Linked DNA regions of Homo sapiens: region 2 is linked to region 1. A link means that fine-mapping ties the variant in region 1 to the expression of a gene that starts in the linked region. Tissue or cell type: tibial nerve. Region 1 holds a variant in brackets; the other region holds the start of a gene. All regions are shown on one strand. Distances are between the middles of the regions.

The links. PIP is the estimated chance that this variant, and not a neighbour inherited with it, causes the effect.
Region 2: it holds the start of IGSF11, and the variant in region 1 is fine-mapped to the expression of IGSF11 in tibial nerve (GTEx, PIP above 0.99).

The regions. Positions count from the first base shown.
Region 1 is chr3:118,886,453-118,894,643 of GRCh38, forward strand. No RefSeq gene overlaps it. Among named protein-coding and RNA genes, the nearest start is that of IGSF11-AS1, 53 kb to the right of the region's middle. The variant T/C (reference allele first, on the strand shown) is at 3,939.
Region 2 is chr3:119,030,619-119,038,809 of GRCh38, forward strand. It overlaps IGSF11 (immunoglobulin superfamily member 11), which reads right to left and starts at 4,228. Exons shown (of 7, transcript NM_001015887.3): 1 at 3,913-4,228. The coding sequence starts at 3,964. RefSeq lists a silencer at 4,149-4,508.

The DNA.
Region 1 (8,191 bases):
AAATATTAAAGTCATTCACAGTCATCCAAATCAGAATCTTCAATCCACAAATGGATTTCCTGCCCCGACTCTCACCCCTCAGTCAAGTTAATAGTTTCCAAGTTTTGTCCATCAGAAATGGCTGAGTTTTGAGCAGAATATACTGTGATTTTTTACGTGTGTTTTTCAATGGCCCTATACTTGGATTGTGTCCCATCCCATCATCAAATTGCTCCAGAAATATCACCAAACCCAGGCCATCAGAGGATTTCAACCACTGCGTTGGGGCTAGAGGCTAGAGAGCACTCTAGAGTCTCATGGAGTATACTGGGCAGTTTGTCATCTGATTTCTCCATTGGAAAGCAAGACTGGGTTCCCAGGCACATGCATTTCTTGCCTGAATTATTGAAATAATCACCCAGCTAGCTTATGAAACTTAGTTTCTCCTCCACTTTCTCATTCTGTAATATAGGGCTGACGTCATCACTTCACTTTCTGCTTTCAAACCTTATGGTGCTTCAGTTCCCAAGAATAAAGGACAAAAACTTAGCAGTGCATGTAAAACCCCTGATCTCCGGCCCTAAACTATTTGACTATATTACTGCTCTCTTTCACCAACTATCCATGAACAACACTACCTGCTATAATCAAAGTTAATAAACACTTTCAACAACCCCATCTCAGTTCCTTGATTATTCTGATTTCTCTGCCCTGGAATGTGCATTGCTCCCTCCTGTAATGCCTGAGAATGTTCACTAGTCAGAGCCCAATACTAAAAAATTCACCTGAGCACATATGATGTTGCTGGTAGTATAACTTGCTATAATCTTTCTAGAAAATAATTTGGCAATAGATATCAGGAGACTAAAAGCTCATATTCTCTGGCCCAAATATTTTCCCTATCTATCCTTTCTAAGGAAACAAACTTAAGAAATTATCCCCTGGGAAATCCATTACAGTGTTATTTATAATAGTAAAAAATACAATGACCCAAATTTCCTCCTGTTGAAGAATGTTTAAAACAGCAACTTTCAAACTTTTTTGACCATGATCCTCAATAAGAAATAAAAGGTGTATTATAATCCAATTACACTATTCATTTATATCCACACAGTAAACATACATTTATGTGTGTGTGTCTGTGTGGAGAGATCTGAAGTAAAATCTTCATGAGACAATACATATTGTTAACTACATATAATGCATACAATTTCATTTTTTAAAATGTTGATTACAACCCACTAAACCTACCAATTAATATGTTGTGAGCCACTGTTTGGAAAACAGTAGATTTAAAATATGATCGTAGTATAATGGAATAATACTTAGTTACATAAATATTTCTTAAAATAATAATCGCCCAAGAATATAATAGTTATAGAAAGCAAGGTACTGGTTAGGCAAGTGGCTCACGCCTGTAATCTCAGCACTTTGGGAGGCAGAGGTGGGTGCATCACGAGGTCAGGAGTTCAAGACCAGCCTGGCCAGCATGGTGAAACCCAGTCTCTACTAAAAATACAAAAAATTAGCTAAGCATAGTGGCAGGTGCCTGTAATCCCAGCTACTGGGGAGGCCGAGGCAAGAGAATCGCTTGAACCCCGGAGGCAGAGGCTGCAGTGAGCCAAGATCGCACCACTGCACTCCAGCCCGGGTGACAGAGTGAGACTCCATCTCAAAAACAAAAACAAAAACAACCAGCGAGGTACCAACTGTCTACACAGCGTGATTTTAATATTTTTTGAAGTATATATGCATTGGGATAGTTCTCTGGGGCCATTGCTAAGACAGAGGGTACTCCACTGTGGTCAACAATTTGCCTAATATTTCTATGTCGCAGTTTCTTGCAGGGAGCATAACAGAAGAGCATAGCATTCAGACAGTCCTGGAGTCCTGTGTGCTCTTGGATTAACTGTAAAATGTATTCATTTTACTTGGCTGGGCACAGTGGCTCATGCCTGTAAACCCAGCACTTTGGGAGGCCGGGGCAGGCAGATCACTTAAGTCCAGGAATTTGAGACCATCCTGGGCAACATGGCAAAACCCCACCTCTACAAAAAATACAAAAATTAGCCGGGCACAGTGGCACACGCCTGTAGTCCCAGCTACTTGGGGAGCTGAAGTGGGAGGATCGCTTGAGCCTCGGAGATCAAGGCTGCAGTAAGCCAAGAACGCACCACTGCACTCCAGCCTGGGTGACAAAGTGAGACCCTGTCTCATTTAAAGAAAAATAAAAGTATTCATTTTATTCAATAAACACCATTGGCCATAAATATTATGTGCTCAGAACTAAAAAATGTGAAGGTGTTCCAAATCTATCACATGAAGGCAGACATTTAAACAAATAAATGCACTAGTGTTTCAGATGATGGATGGATGATGTACAGTGGGGGCCAAAAACGAGAAAGAGAGTGCTCATTTCTATTGGGAGATAATGCCTGACCTGAGACTAAATAAACATAGGTTTCCACCAGGAAGTCAAGGAAGAAACGAAGAGCAATCCAGGTAGAAAGAAGGAGCACAGAGAAGGGTGAATCTTCGTGGTAAATTCAGGGCTTAGCAGGCATACTGCCATGATTGGAGCACAAGATAAGGTGGGGATGGGGCTGAAAAGTGAAATCTGGAGAATGGAGTGCAGGCAGAATCACGGAGGGCCTTGTGTGCAATGCCAAGGACTCTGGACACTCTAAGCCACTGATTCTTACAATACACATAGCCTGTGCAGCTTTAAGGACGGCAGGTGCCTAGCTCACCCCCAGTAACACTAATTAGTTGGCCCTTGGTGAGATTTGCCATGTTTTATTTTTTTACTCAACCTCTTTGTGTAGGCAGTGAGGGGCCACTTAAGGAATGCAATAAGCAGAGGTGTAGTATCACAGTTTCAATCAGCTACAGTGTGGAGAATGGATTGGAGGTATACAAGATTGAAAGCAAGAGATCCAACTAAAGAGACCATCATGGTGGCCCAAGTGAATAAGGGCAAAAACACAGGCTAGAAAAAATGCAGGTGGAATACAGAGGAGAGGAAGGATATTGAAATGTCAAGTACACAGTCCAGACTTACTATAGAGGCAGGGATGGTGTGAAAGCGTGGGTTGGATCATGGGGTTGAAACTCCCATGATCTCCTGCATCCCTCCTAAATGCACAGGTAAAATAAAAACAGATATTTTCTGTGCTAAAAGAATCACAGGAAAAATCCCCCGCCTTCCCTTCCTCCATCCTCCACACTTTCCAATAACTTGTTGCCTCTAAGTAGTTCTTCTTTCTGAAGTCATAATTAGTGTCTGGGGGCAAAGAAAGGAGACATAGAGGTGGAAAGGAATTAAGAATGACTGCCTTTCCAACACTTCAGGGAAAGTAATACTTACCTCAAGGAGTGAGAAAAAATAAGATAATGGATGGATTGTGTCTGGCACATGGTAGGCTCTCAAAAAATCACTTCCTTTTCCTGGAAGGGAGTGACTGAAGCCCAAGCCCTCCCCTTGCCTGAGCAAAAATTTCTACCCAGCTCTGTTTTCCTCTCAAACATATTTATAAGTTTTCTAGTGCAAGACTAAAATGACAAGATTTCACTTTTTCTCAGACAAGATTTTTTTTTTTTAATCCTATGGAATAAAGTCAGAACTGGATGAAGGATTTTCCCCTTTCTGCTGTGTTCCATCAATTGAGAAGAAACTCTCTTTCCTGATAATCTTCTCTGAAATGTAATATTTTTTTTCATCCTTATACTCAATGGGGGAAAAAAAGTACTAGCAGCAACACATCTGAAGATTCCTTGTACCCATCTAAAAGTTAACTCCTCTTTAGTGCTTTGCAAGTAAGCAAAAACACTACACTTCAAAAAAAAAAGCAAGCAAGCAAGCTGCAGAGGACTCTATGAAAGCTGTTCTTTTTACAGAAGTGTGGTCACAAATCAATGCATTGTTAATGAAGAGTTTCCTCTATAAAACTCTAGAGTTA[T/C]GTGGAGACTCAAGACTTGCTTATGACTTCTCGCTGTGGGGAGGTGTGGGCTGAGTTTACACAATGGGGGCTTTCAGCCCCATTTACTTCAGAAGAGCTTTGCCCAAGAAGCCTGATGAGAGAATTGCCCTTTTCCCCTCCTTTCCAAAATGTCAGCCCGGATTGTTTCAAGAACTAGGGAGAGCAGTGTACTGATCTAAATCATTGAAATATTCCTTGAAAATTTAAAATTACCAGAAATGCACCGTTTCTTTTTCTTCTGAAAGCACAAACATTAGAAAATACTATATAGCAATTAGGAGCCAGGTTGCCTATATTTGAATCCAGGTCCCAGGTCTTCCCATATAAACTTAGGCTAGTTACTTATCACTTGTACCTCGGTGTTATTATCTGCAAAATGGGATAGTGTTTGTACCTATCTCATACAGTGGTTGTGAGGATTAAAATGATTTAATAGATGTAAAATGCTTAGAGCAGCACCTGACACATAGTTTCCTGTTACTCGATACTATTCAGAAGAGGAGAGCTCCAAGCTGGATCCACCCATGAAGCTGCTGGAAACAAGTCTGCTTAATAACAGATATTGTAAATACTGGACCACAGGCCACACAGACCCACAGGAATGTATAATTAAGCAGGATTTAACTTAAAAAAATTCATTGCCGACATATACAATCCAAGAGAGATACAAATAAGCATTTCTGGCTTCTCTTGAAGATTCAAGAGACCTGGCCATCCTGGACCCAAGTCCTACTGACCACTCTTGGTGGGAGCTGAGTAGCTGCTAACCTCTTTAGGCAGGGCATAAATCTCCAAGTCACCATGCTCCCCATCTGGCCCAGTTCTCTCATTTACTTTACCTTCACAGGCATTTCAGGTTGTGATCTCTATACTAAAGGGATTGGGGCTCAGAAATCACAGCCTCGCCTCTACTTACATCATAATACAGGATCAGCACTGTGAAGTTGGAGGGGTGAACACACCTTGATCTCTGGATGACTGAGAGAGGGGAGGTGAAGAAAAGAGTTACAACCTGGTTGTATGTGAGACTCAGGTCTTCTCTAATCTCTCCAGTAGAACTTCCGTTTTTCTCCTTATAAAATTCAAATACATGACTTAAAAAGTAAACCAGTAACAGCTACAATTTATCTATACCATTTTATATACATTATCTAATGGTATCCTCAGACCTATGATGTAGCAATTATAATCTCCATGTTATATCCCCAGAGAGGCTAAACAGCTTGCCTCAAGTCAGTAGGAAGTGACGGAGCTGGGACTCAAGTGCAGGCCCAGGGTAGCAAAAGGCATCCTTCTACGTAGAATTTCCTCCAAATTCACCATGTCTTCAAAGACCTCTGTGTTCCCCTCAAAACTTCTCGCCTACGGGAATTTCCTCAAACGCATCCTCCCCTAGCAATAGCTCTGACTGTAGAGCTGAAGGTGGTAAGGGAACTAGTGTTTTACACAAATTGCAAATGCCCTAGGAAAGTGATGAGAAAGAATTAAACGGCTGTGAGACCCCCCCGAGTGTGCAGAAATTAAGAGGAGAAAAACTCAAAAAGCTTGACCGCATGGAAAAAATTATTCTAATAGTCTTATAAGTCAGAGATGGTAATTTTATTAAATAATTTTTTTAATGGGCAAAGAATGACTAGAAAGAATAAAGAACTCTTGTCTATGCCAGGCCAAATTTGAGGCAGTACCAAGACCTTTACTATTTATTGGCTATCTTAATGGAAGGACAGTATATGGCAACAGATGAGCAATGCCCTTGGCTCTACATCTTACAAGCTTTATGACCTTGAGCAAGGTACTTAACCCATGAAAGCCTGTTCCTTCATCTGTAAAATTAGCATAATACAGTACTAAAATTGAAAGTGTTGAGGATTCTATGGGATATACACAAAGTGTCCAGTATGCTGTCTAGCATACAGTAGGTGCTCTATAAATGCTGATGTTCTCCCACCCTCTTAATTATCCTCAGCGATTTGAAATTGATAGTAATCAGAAGATAAGTGTGTTATTTTGGAACAAAATGTGAGGAAAAGGGAAATAGGAGAAAGTATTTGGGTAGACAATAATTACCGAGGCTTCTCCTTTCTCTTAAACAAAAAAATGTCCCAAATTGCTATTTTATATGCAGTAGCACTCAAATAGTACTTCTGGCAAAAAGAGTTGAAATACTGAGTAGGTGTAAATGACATAGCTATTGCCTAGAAATTTAAAGCTTCTGAACTACTACGAATAATGGCAAATATCAAGTGTTTACTATCACCAGACACCATGATATTCATCTTATGTGCATTATTTCATTTAGTACTCACAATCTCAAAGATAACTATTATATTGTTTCTATTTTGTAGATGAAACTGAGCCTTAGAGAATTTTGTAGTTTGTCCAATGTAATGGACAACTGAAGCTCATTCATATATATATATATACACACACACATACATATATATATATATATAGGCATACAATCTTGTCCAAGCCTCAAATGCAAAACTGCTGCAAATCTGATAAACTGAGGGAGCAACTGATGGATGATAGAGAAATATGGCTTCAATGTAAGTTATAATAAGCTAAATTATCTATTCTAATCTGACCTCCTAAAATTAATCAGGTATCAACTGACCTCACTGTGTTAAATACATAGTAGGCACTATACTTATTGCTTTGTTTAATAAACTTGTCTCTATCATTAATGTCTTATGATTAAGTCAGAATTTTGTGCCTTGCCTTTACCTAAAATAGGGAAATAATACCTTCTTCACAAGGAAGCTGTGAGGAAAAGCTATAAATAGCTGTATACACATAGAATTTACAAGTCAACTTTTCTCTGAATTGCATTTATTGTCTCAGCATTTTTTCTGTGAAGTTGAATATCATCTTACTTAACACAAGTGATTTGTCCAAAAGAGGGCTATTTGAAGGCAAAACGACGAGGATCCCAGATCTTTCTTTTTAGACATTGGTTCAGTCAGACAGAAATATCTACTGAGAAAAGCAACTGACAGATTACTGAATAGTCTGGGAAAAATGTTTAACCACCTCAGTTTCTGAACTTGTAAAATATGAGTGATGATAGCGTCCATGTAGAAGTGTGATAAAATTAAATAAATTAGTACTTGAAATGCATTTTTTCATGTACTGCCATGTAATAAGCATAACAGATATTTTCACACAAAACCCTTCATAATTACTTAAGATTCTTCCAAACCACTGCATTAAGAATGTTATCTCCACAGCTTTCCCAAACAATACTGCATCTCTAATATAACATCAAATGCCCCCAAGGAACTGGCACAATCATTTGCCACATGAGTAAATGACTCTGATGTGGCCTTGCTTTGGGAATATTCTAATATTTGACTGCTACTTTTAACACTGAAGTTAAGAGACCAAATCATATATTTTCAGTTTCATGAATTTAGCGCATCCTTCAAGCACTTTCTCTGAATACAGCAACGTGTTAAGTGTTGTGACCACAACCAAGATATAGAAGTAGTAGTCCCATATGCTTGAACTTGCATAAACATCCACTCATATACTTACACGACTTGCAACTACTTGCTCACAGATGTGGATCCCTCCTGCAATATGGACTTTTTGAGAATATGGCTGCAGTTACTTCTCTGTTTTTACCTTCAACACCCAGAACAATGTTTAGCACATAATTAAGGATCAAAAATGATTGTGGAATAACTCATTTTATAGTCCAGCAGGAGGGATCAATCATGTACACAAATACAGAAATATAATACAAACTGTGGAAATTCCATTACAGGTAGTAAACGCTATACCTCTTTAGAGAGGACAGTCACTTCTCATTAGACTGAAAAAGAGAATTTATAGAGGACAATGTATTTGAATTGGACTTGTGGTACCAGAAGATTTGGGTGGAGATTATAGCTGGAAGCTGTAGCGGGGGGAAAAATGGAAACAAAAAGAAAAAAATTTACTTCAAGGGAAGGTGAACAGGTCTGGAGCAAAGTTTGCATGTAGAGGAGGCGCAGACGTTAAGAATGAAAGAGGCAGTGAACTATTTGTGGAAGAAACTGAGTAAGTCAAGGCAAGGAGTAACAATTTTATTTAATACACAATTGAGAATCCTTAAAGCTTTCAAATAGTAGGGTACTATGAGATTTGTTTAACTGATGATTATTTCAAAAAGTAATGATTCAGGACTTCCGGTTCCAGCCAAGATGGGATAGGCCCATTACAAACTCCATTTTAAGACGGTCTAGCCT
Region 2 (8,191 bases), 140 kb after region 1:
CTTTTAAGACCAAACTCAGCTCAAATCAGATGGCTTTTTGAATACCACCCAAGAACCAACAACCTCTCTTAAGCCAGTTGCTCACAAAGTATGGTCAAGAGAAGATTTCAGATCCTCCAGATGGTGTGGGGGCAGTTTTCAAAATGCAGGGATGAGATGTGTTAGTGCCAGCTAGCCCTCACCAAACAAAGAAAGTTGAGATGACTGTGTTCACTTGAAGTAAATTAGAAAACAGAAATTCAGCAAACCCTCCCCAAACTGCCTAAAATAATTCAGTGTTGAGAGAGTATAAAAAATTGTCATTAGTCTAGATAACAATAGATGTGGAATCCCTATTCTAAATAAACTAGTTATGGGGCCAGGCACGGTGGCTCAGGCCTGTAATCCCAGCACTTTGGGAGACTGGGGTGAGCAAATCACTTGAGGTCAGGAGTTTGAGACCAGCCTGGCCAACGTGGTGAAACCCCGTCTCTACTAAAAATACAAAAATTAGCCAAGTGTGGTGGTATGCGCCTGTAATCCTGGCTACTCGGGAGGCTGAGGCAGGAGAACTGCTAGAACCCAGGAGTCGGGGATTGCAGTGAGCCAAGATGGCGCCACTGCACTCCAGCCTGGACAACAAAAGCCAGACTCCATCTCAAATAAATAAATAAATAAACAAACTAACTAAGTAGTTATGGATGAAAAGTTTTAGTGGGAAGGCCAGAATTTTCTGAACTTTCTCCCAACTCAGTAAGTACTGCCTGTCCCTTGCTTTGTATTACTCACTGCAACTAAAGAATCTTTTGCACCAGCACATCACCTTGTTTGACACTAAATCACATGGCATAAGTATGAAGACTCAAATGAGAATTTTCATTATAAATCTCTCCACTATGAAAGTGTGAAAACACATTTCAAAATCTGCCACATACTGTCACCTGGGGAGGGGAAGCCAAAACAAGTACTTTTACCCCTTGCATCATTACCTTGTGTCTGACAACAGTTCTAAGCATAACGCTTTTTAAGTGCTTGGTAATTTAATATTTAAATTGCTTCCTGAATAGTCCATGTTGAATATATATGTGTATTAGGCTTAGTATCTCTGAAATTTTCATCCCGTAGCTGTCATCTTTCATGTAGGTCAAACTACAGATTTTTACTAACAGGTGAATCCTTCTAAAACAATTACAGTATGAAATTTAGAGCTGATAAATTGGATTTTACAATAAATTTTTAATAATGGTAACACTGAAAAGGTTCATGACTTTTTTCATTTTCATTGCATTTTATGTGGTCATTTCTTTCTTTTTATACATTTTCTCAAATTCTGAAAAGTTATCTGCTATTTCAAGGAATCACAAGTATGAGAAACACTTTAGTTATATCTAACCCATTAGAAGAACTATATAGAAGTCAGCTTTTCAATTCAAATTCCCTTTGAAGTTACTTCACAAATAAAAACAAAATAACAATAAGAAAACAGAATAAACAGAAATAGAAACAGAAATTTATTAACATCGATTTTCTTTCATTTATTGAAAAGACCCTCTATTTCTACCTTTGGTGTATCATTTCATTGTAGTGGCCACTGCTATTGGTTATTTACCTAGCATCCATTTCCCTTTACCCCTTTGTAATGGAACCAGCTTTGTTCAGATATACACCCCTCCTGCTATTCCACATTGAAAATTCTGGGGATGAGCCATAATTCATTCAAACCAAGTTTGCCCTTGACTAGTTCAAGAATTAAATTCGGTTAGGGCAAGGTATTCTCCTGGAGACAGGTATGCTAGCACAAACAGGCGTGCTAACTGTTCATCCTCTTCCCCGCCCCACAGTAAGGAAACTGAACATCAGTACTTTTTCCATGGCCAGCCGAATAAAGCCCAAACGCAGCATTCAAGATTCTCTACTATCTTGCCCCCAACTACTTTTTGGCTCTTTCTCCCTTGCACACATCTCCTGCTCTAGCAGCTTGGCCTTTCAAGAGTATACCCCTGCCTGTTCCACTTTACATCCTTCCTTCAGGCTGTTCCTTTGGTTAAGAAAGCCCATCCACTCCCATCTGAGCCAATTCATACCCTATTCATTCAATGTCCAGATAAAAAGTAAACTTTTCCAAGAAGTCTTACTTGATACTTACATTAACAAATAGAACTCATCATACATTCCCTGTACCATAAATTATTTGTGCATGCTTACAGCCTGTTTTAAAAATGCAAACTCCTTACGGGCTGCAGACACTCACACGCGTCTTTGTATTCCACCACCACCTTTCCCCACCAGATACTCAAAAGCACAGAGTGATGGCTCTGTAAATATCTGTTGAACAATGAACACTGTTTTTGAAAGTGGAAAATGCCTCTACATAACAGGTTATTGCCAAAACTGAGAAGTCCTTGGAAGTCTTTAAAAACATTTTTCTATGGCTTGGGAATAGTTTTGCTGAAGAAAAAAGAACAAATCAGATGACCTTGCAAGGCTGAGTCTGCGAATTGTATCAACTCTTTTAAAGTACTGCCTAATAATTCAAAAACAAACTATACACAAATGCTATTTACAAAAAGAGGAGCATTTATTATAATATACAACTTTAATAATAGAATGTTCTACCAAAAATTTGAGCTGTTCTTGTAATATTGGTAATATTTAGAGCTGTGTCCAAGGATTGCATAAAAAGCCGATTTACTCTCTTATTTCACACTTAAAAGTAGTAGGACAGAGAGAAAAACTGGCCATCTCAAACTAGTAACAGTACAAGATACTTGGAAGCACAAGTTCATAACATGGACATATTGATGTTATTGTGTGCACATCATCACTAAAAATATACCTACTGAACTCTAGAAAAGTTAATTTTGATGATAACAGCTTCATTAGTTTCTACGGAGAAGACATACAAAAAGTTTTCGTATTCTCTTCTCCCCTATTCAATGAATCTGCACAAGTTAAGTTGGCTAGTATTAGGTTACTTCAAAATCAGTTCGAATAAGGCCATGAAATGACTGGAAACATGCTGGTGTCTCCAGAAAAAAAACAGGGTTAACCACAAAGTTCCAAAATCACTGAACCCGCTTTTTAAATAACATCCTTCAGAAAAAAAATCTCAGTAAATCTCAGCAATAAATGGGACAGAAAACTGGATTCCACAGGAGAATGCACACACAAAAACAAACAGCACTGCATAGGATGAAAATCAGGATCTAAATTAATATGATGGCTATTCACCGAAAATGTAAGAAAGATTAAGCAGAGATTAAAAGCTAAATTTATAAACAGATGTTTTAAAAACCGTTAACAAGAAATTTAAAGACATTTATTTATTTTGTTCTAATATTGTTATATTCTATGTATTGTTGAGAGCCAACTTAAGTCCTTTGGAGATGAAGCTAGAGTGTAAATAAATTCTTGTTTTCGATTGTAGTATAGCACAGTATACAATTAGTTTTAAAATAAAGATCATTTTCGGCCAAAACGTGTATAGGCTTCTAAAAGGTTACGTTAAAGCTATAAAGTTTTCCAAATGATTTTAAAAGCACTTCTAGTTTTCCTAGGGCCGCCTAGTAAAGACAACTGGTTCTAAATACAGTTTCTAACTGGACCAGTGAGTAAGGGAGTTCGTTATCTAAAAAGGATCCTGCATTCCGCAGAGCGCAGCGAGGTGAGAGTCAGGGCCCGGCCTGGGACCGGAGGTAGCCGGACGAGTTTAGTTACCTCTCTGACAAGGAACACCTGGGCTGCGCGGGCGGCAGAAGCAGCCGCTGCAGGTGCGCGCGAGCCTCGGCCGCAGCAACGAACGCCGCCCCTGAGAAAGTTGGACTCCCGACCCTCGGCAAAGCAAGGAGGCTCTTTGCCGTCCCCAAACAGCTTCGCCCCGGGCCCGCCGACCCGGCCTGGCCCCACCGGGAAGAAAGGGCTGGAGCTACTCACCGTGCAGAGAGAGGAGCAGCAAAGGCGCCAGAGGGGAACGCTGAGAAGTCATCCCGGGGCCGCAGGGAGCGCGCCTGCCTCCTACCCGGCTCCCGGTCGCAACAGGAGAGGAGCGGGCGTGAGTCTCCGCGCTCTTGGGGCAGCCTGGTCCTCCCACACCCAGCGCCGGGCCGCTGTTCCCCGCGCAGAGCTGGGACTGTCAGACCCACAGACGAGCCAAGTGCAGCTGCAGCGCCGCCCGGCTCCGCGGACGCTGAGCTGTGACCAGAGGCGTTCCGGGCTCGCCAGCCGTGCCACCCAGCCCTGCCCCAGGACTAGCCGACCCCTCGCGCAGTCCGGGGAGCCACTCCCCCCAACTCACGCCCCGCTACTCCAGCCGCAGCTCGGCTCCTCGCCGCGCCGCCCACTCGCCCCGCTTGGTCTCCAGGGCAACCGCGGCTCCAGCGCGACGCCTGGCGGCCCACCCGCGGAGCAGAGCGCGGCGCGCAGCTGGCGCGGCCCCCGCCACCTGTGCACCGCGCCGCCCGCTCCCCCGCACGCCTCCACCAGCTCCGGGAACCGAGGGGTGGGCGCCCTCCTCGCCGGAGTTAGGGCCCCTCCCTTGGTCTAAACCCCTCCGCAAACAGGTGGTGTCGGCCTGATGCATCCTGGAGAGCTCTAGCAATGACTTTTCCACAGCCTTCCTCTGAGCCTGCAAGAGTCTTTCCTGTTGCAGTTTTCGGATAATTTATATTTGGCTTTTTCACTTTCAGTCCTCTCTTATAAAACCTAAATAATCTGAAAGAACCTGACTCTGGCAGAATTAGGAATTCCTAATTTTACAGTGTTTTGGTTTTGCGCTGTTTCCTGGATGCCTTTTCACCTTTCTTCCTTGAAAAGTGGATAGAGGCTGGACCATGCCCCTAACTCCCCATTCCTATCAGAGAGACTGCCATCTTCTCTTGCCCCTTTTGTAAACCTTATGTCAACTTCTAATATTTTAAGTTTTCCAGCTTAAACGTTAGTGCTTTCTTAAACTGACCTTAAGTATACATGTTAACTAGTGGGGTATGTACATTTATTGTAATCGTTGTTTAGTTGGGTTTTTTGTTTTTGCTTCTTGTTTGTTTGGGTTGGGTGGGGAGAAAGACTTTCCTAGCATCTGAAATTGTTTTACTTAAATATCTACCTACATCTTTTCTTGTAAAACCTATCTTTATTCTCTTATACTGGGCTCTGCTCTTTATTGTACAGCTCATAGTCACTTCCTGCTTCAGCCTCCAAACTGAGCCTTCTAAATTTGAGGACATACCTGCCCAGGGGATGCCAACCCATTTTGGTCAGTTTCTACAGCAGCATAAATTAGGGTTCTCGGAGCCATTCAGAAATTGAGCCCTCATCTGGCAAATACAATCCTCCCAGGGAAACTCAGAAACAAAAATAATATGCACAGAAGAAAAATATGTAAAATATTTTTTAAACATACATTTGGACAAGGATTGGAAGATATATGTAAAATTAAAATATCAAGATGGTGGAGTTATGGATGTACTTCTTTTTGAAAATGTGGATATTATATTTTTAAGGTTAAAAAAATGAAACATGTTAAGAAATGTTAATAACTTTTAACAAGAATATCCTGAAAGGATAAATTTTGATTATGAAGTAGAGATGCCTCAACTTTGCTCACTACTTCCAACTTGCTAGAATTCCCTACCAGATCTCTAATGGCAAGAAATAAATGATATGACAGTAGAGTTTTTCATATTAATAACAAATTTAAATTTCCAACTATGATATCACGAGGCTCATTCTCATTCTTTTAAACTCCAGGGTAAGGACTAGAGTTTCTTTTTTCCATCCAATTCAATCCCTCACCCTCTCTTGTACATATTCCTGCAGTCTAATCCAGTCCTAAGCAGGGTATAAGAGTAAGCAATATAAGAAGAAAAACAAGGAAGCGGTCAAGTGATAGGAGCTACTGAGAGCAACTCTTCATGTCACCATAATCCCAGATATAAATATAGAGGCAGAATATTTATCCTTTAAATAAATATCCTTTAAATAACCTAATAATCTGAGCTTAAAGCTCTGATAAAGCAAGTTATCTGATATATTTATCGCATCAATTTAACAACTATTTACCAAGTACCTACACTTTGTAAGGCACCAGGTTTAAGGTTAAACCAAAAAAAAAAAAATGACCCCTGACCCCAAATAAGTTCCAATTGCATATGGGCTATATCTGTGCTATCATAAATAAGCAGATAGAGTTCTGCCTCTTTGTCACCTAAGGATACTTCTGCCTTGCCAGGCAAGAGCTACTGAGTCATTAAGAGGACAATGCTCACAGTTCAGTAAAGGAGCCCTTTCAATAGAAAAAAAAAAGTGTGGCTTCTGAAGGGAGAGTGAGGATGATCAGATTTCAGGAGGCAATCCAGCTGCTGAGAAGCATGAGGGCAGATGGTAGATGGTGGACCAGAAGAAAGCAGATCAGGAGTACTAGAAGCTCCAAGTGCTGTACACAGAGGCTTCCAAGGACACTCTCCCAGGAAACAAAAAGTGTGGTTTTTAAAAAAATTCATAGAGATAATACCATTGACATATACTTTGAGTAATTTTTTATTAGTAATGATGAGTTTCACCAGCTCTTTTATCCTAATCTGCTTTACGACCACAGAAGGATTTCTTTAAATCCCTTAAGTATTCTGAGTACTAAAGACAGAGACAATATGTTATATTTGTGTAACACTTTACAAATTTCAAAGTGCTTTCACACCTATTATCTGATTTAATCTTCACAGCAAACCCAGGGGGGATGGGTAAGGCATGTATGATGACCCTGTCTTCACACAGGAGGATACTGTGTCTTAAAGCTATCTGAGGGTAACACTGTACTTGCCTCCTAAAGATTTATCCCACCTCTGCCCCACCATGATCACTACCACACCCAGACACCACCTGAGAAGCTATAAAATTTGGATGAGATTGGCCCCACCCTCATCTCTGAGAGAGTTATAGTTGGTCTACCTTACCAAGAAAGAAGTGGAGAGGGGAATGATCAGGATGAGGAATCCTGGTAGAAGACTCTGCTATATGGCACCTTTGACTCAAAAACATTGATGACGTGAAAATAAGTCAACTGCTAAAGTTCACATTTTAATCCTAGGCAGGCTCTCCTCAACCCATCAAAATGCTGGACCACTTCTTTCCACAATCAGTTAATCTGCATTCAAGAATGGAAAATTAACTTTATTATTAGCTTAGGAGGAACATAATTAAGAAAGAAAAATGATGTAGGGAATTATAAGGATTTCCAATGCCAAGTATAAATTATTTTTGAATTAGCTATTTTAAGTTTTTAATACCTCAGATCCCTCTTCATTCATATATATAAATTAAAGGTTAATTGCATTTAAGTTTTGGTCTGTATTTGTCTATGGAGTGTTTTATAAGAACATTATTCTTAAAGTTAGGAAAAACCTGTTTGATCCTTGCTTGAGCCAGTAACTCATTCTGTATATATTTTAACCCAGCTGCTTAGAGCCAGCATATAGTCTAGAGCACAGTTTGGTCCTTTTAGAAGTAAAATTTTAGAGGAATTTTTCTCCCTCCCCCTCCCCCTTTGCAAAATGTCAAGAAAAGCTCTAAAATGACAATAAAGGAATGGGAAACAAAATAGTGGCATCATTACAGTAAGAAAGAAAGTAAACCAACAAGTGTTTATTGTATGTTGACATAAATAGACCACTTAATATTTTAAAACAACACTCTCAAATTTTGGATTAACTCATAACGTAGATATATTGATATCTTGTTGTCTTTCTTACATCTGTTTCTTCCCACTCCTCTGTCAACCATTCCTAGATAGGATTTACAAGGAGCTAAACAGCAATATCCATCCTCCTCCCCATAGCCCAATCCCTATCACTGTTGTGAATATTGTCAAAGTTTCCCATCTTCATCCATTTTGGGAAAAGTTAGCTCTTTTTCTTGAAGCCCTAATTTATTTTTGGGTAAAGTTACTCTCTGAGCAGGGAACATTGTAACGAAATGCTACTGAATTAATTCTAATAGCAAATTTAAAATAATACCACTAGGTTTTTTTAGGACTTGAAAAAGGCAATAGCATAAGTAGCATTTTGTATGTCACCTGAAAAATTTTTGTATTTTCATTTTTATAAGGAATATAATTTTCAAATATTCTGCCAAGTTTCTTTACCAGTTTTCATTAAAGGTAATATGCTTCAGATTAATTCACTTGATTTTATATTGGGGTATAGGAAGTTACCTCAGTATT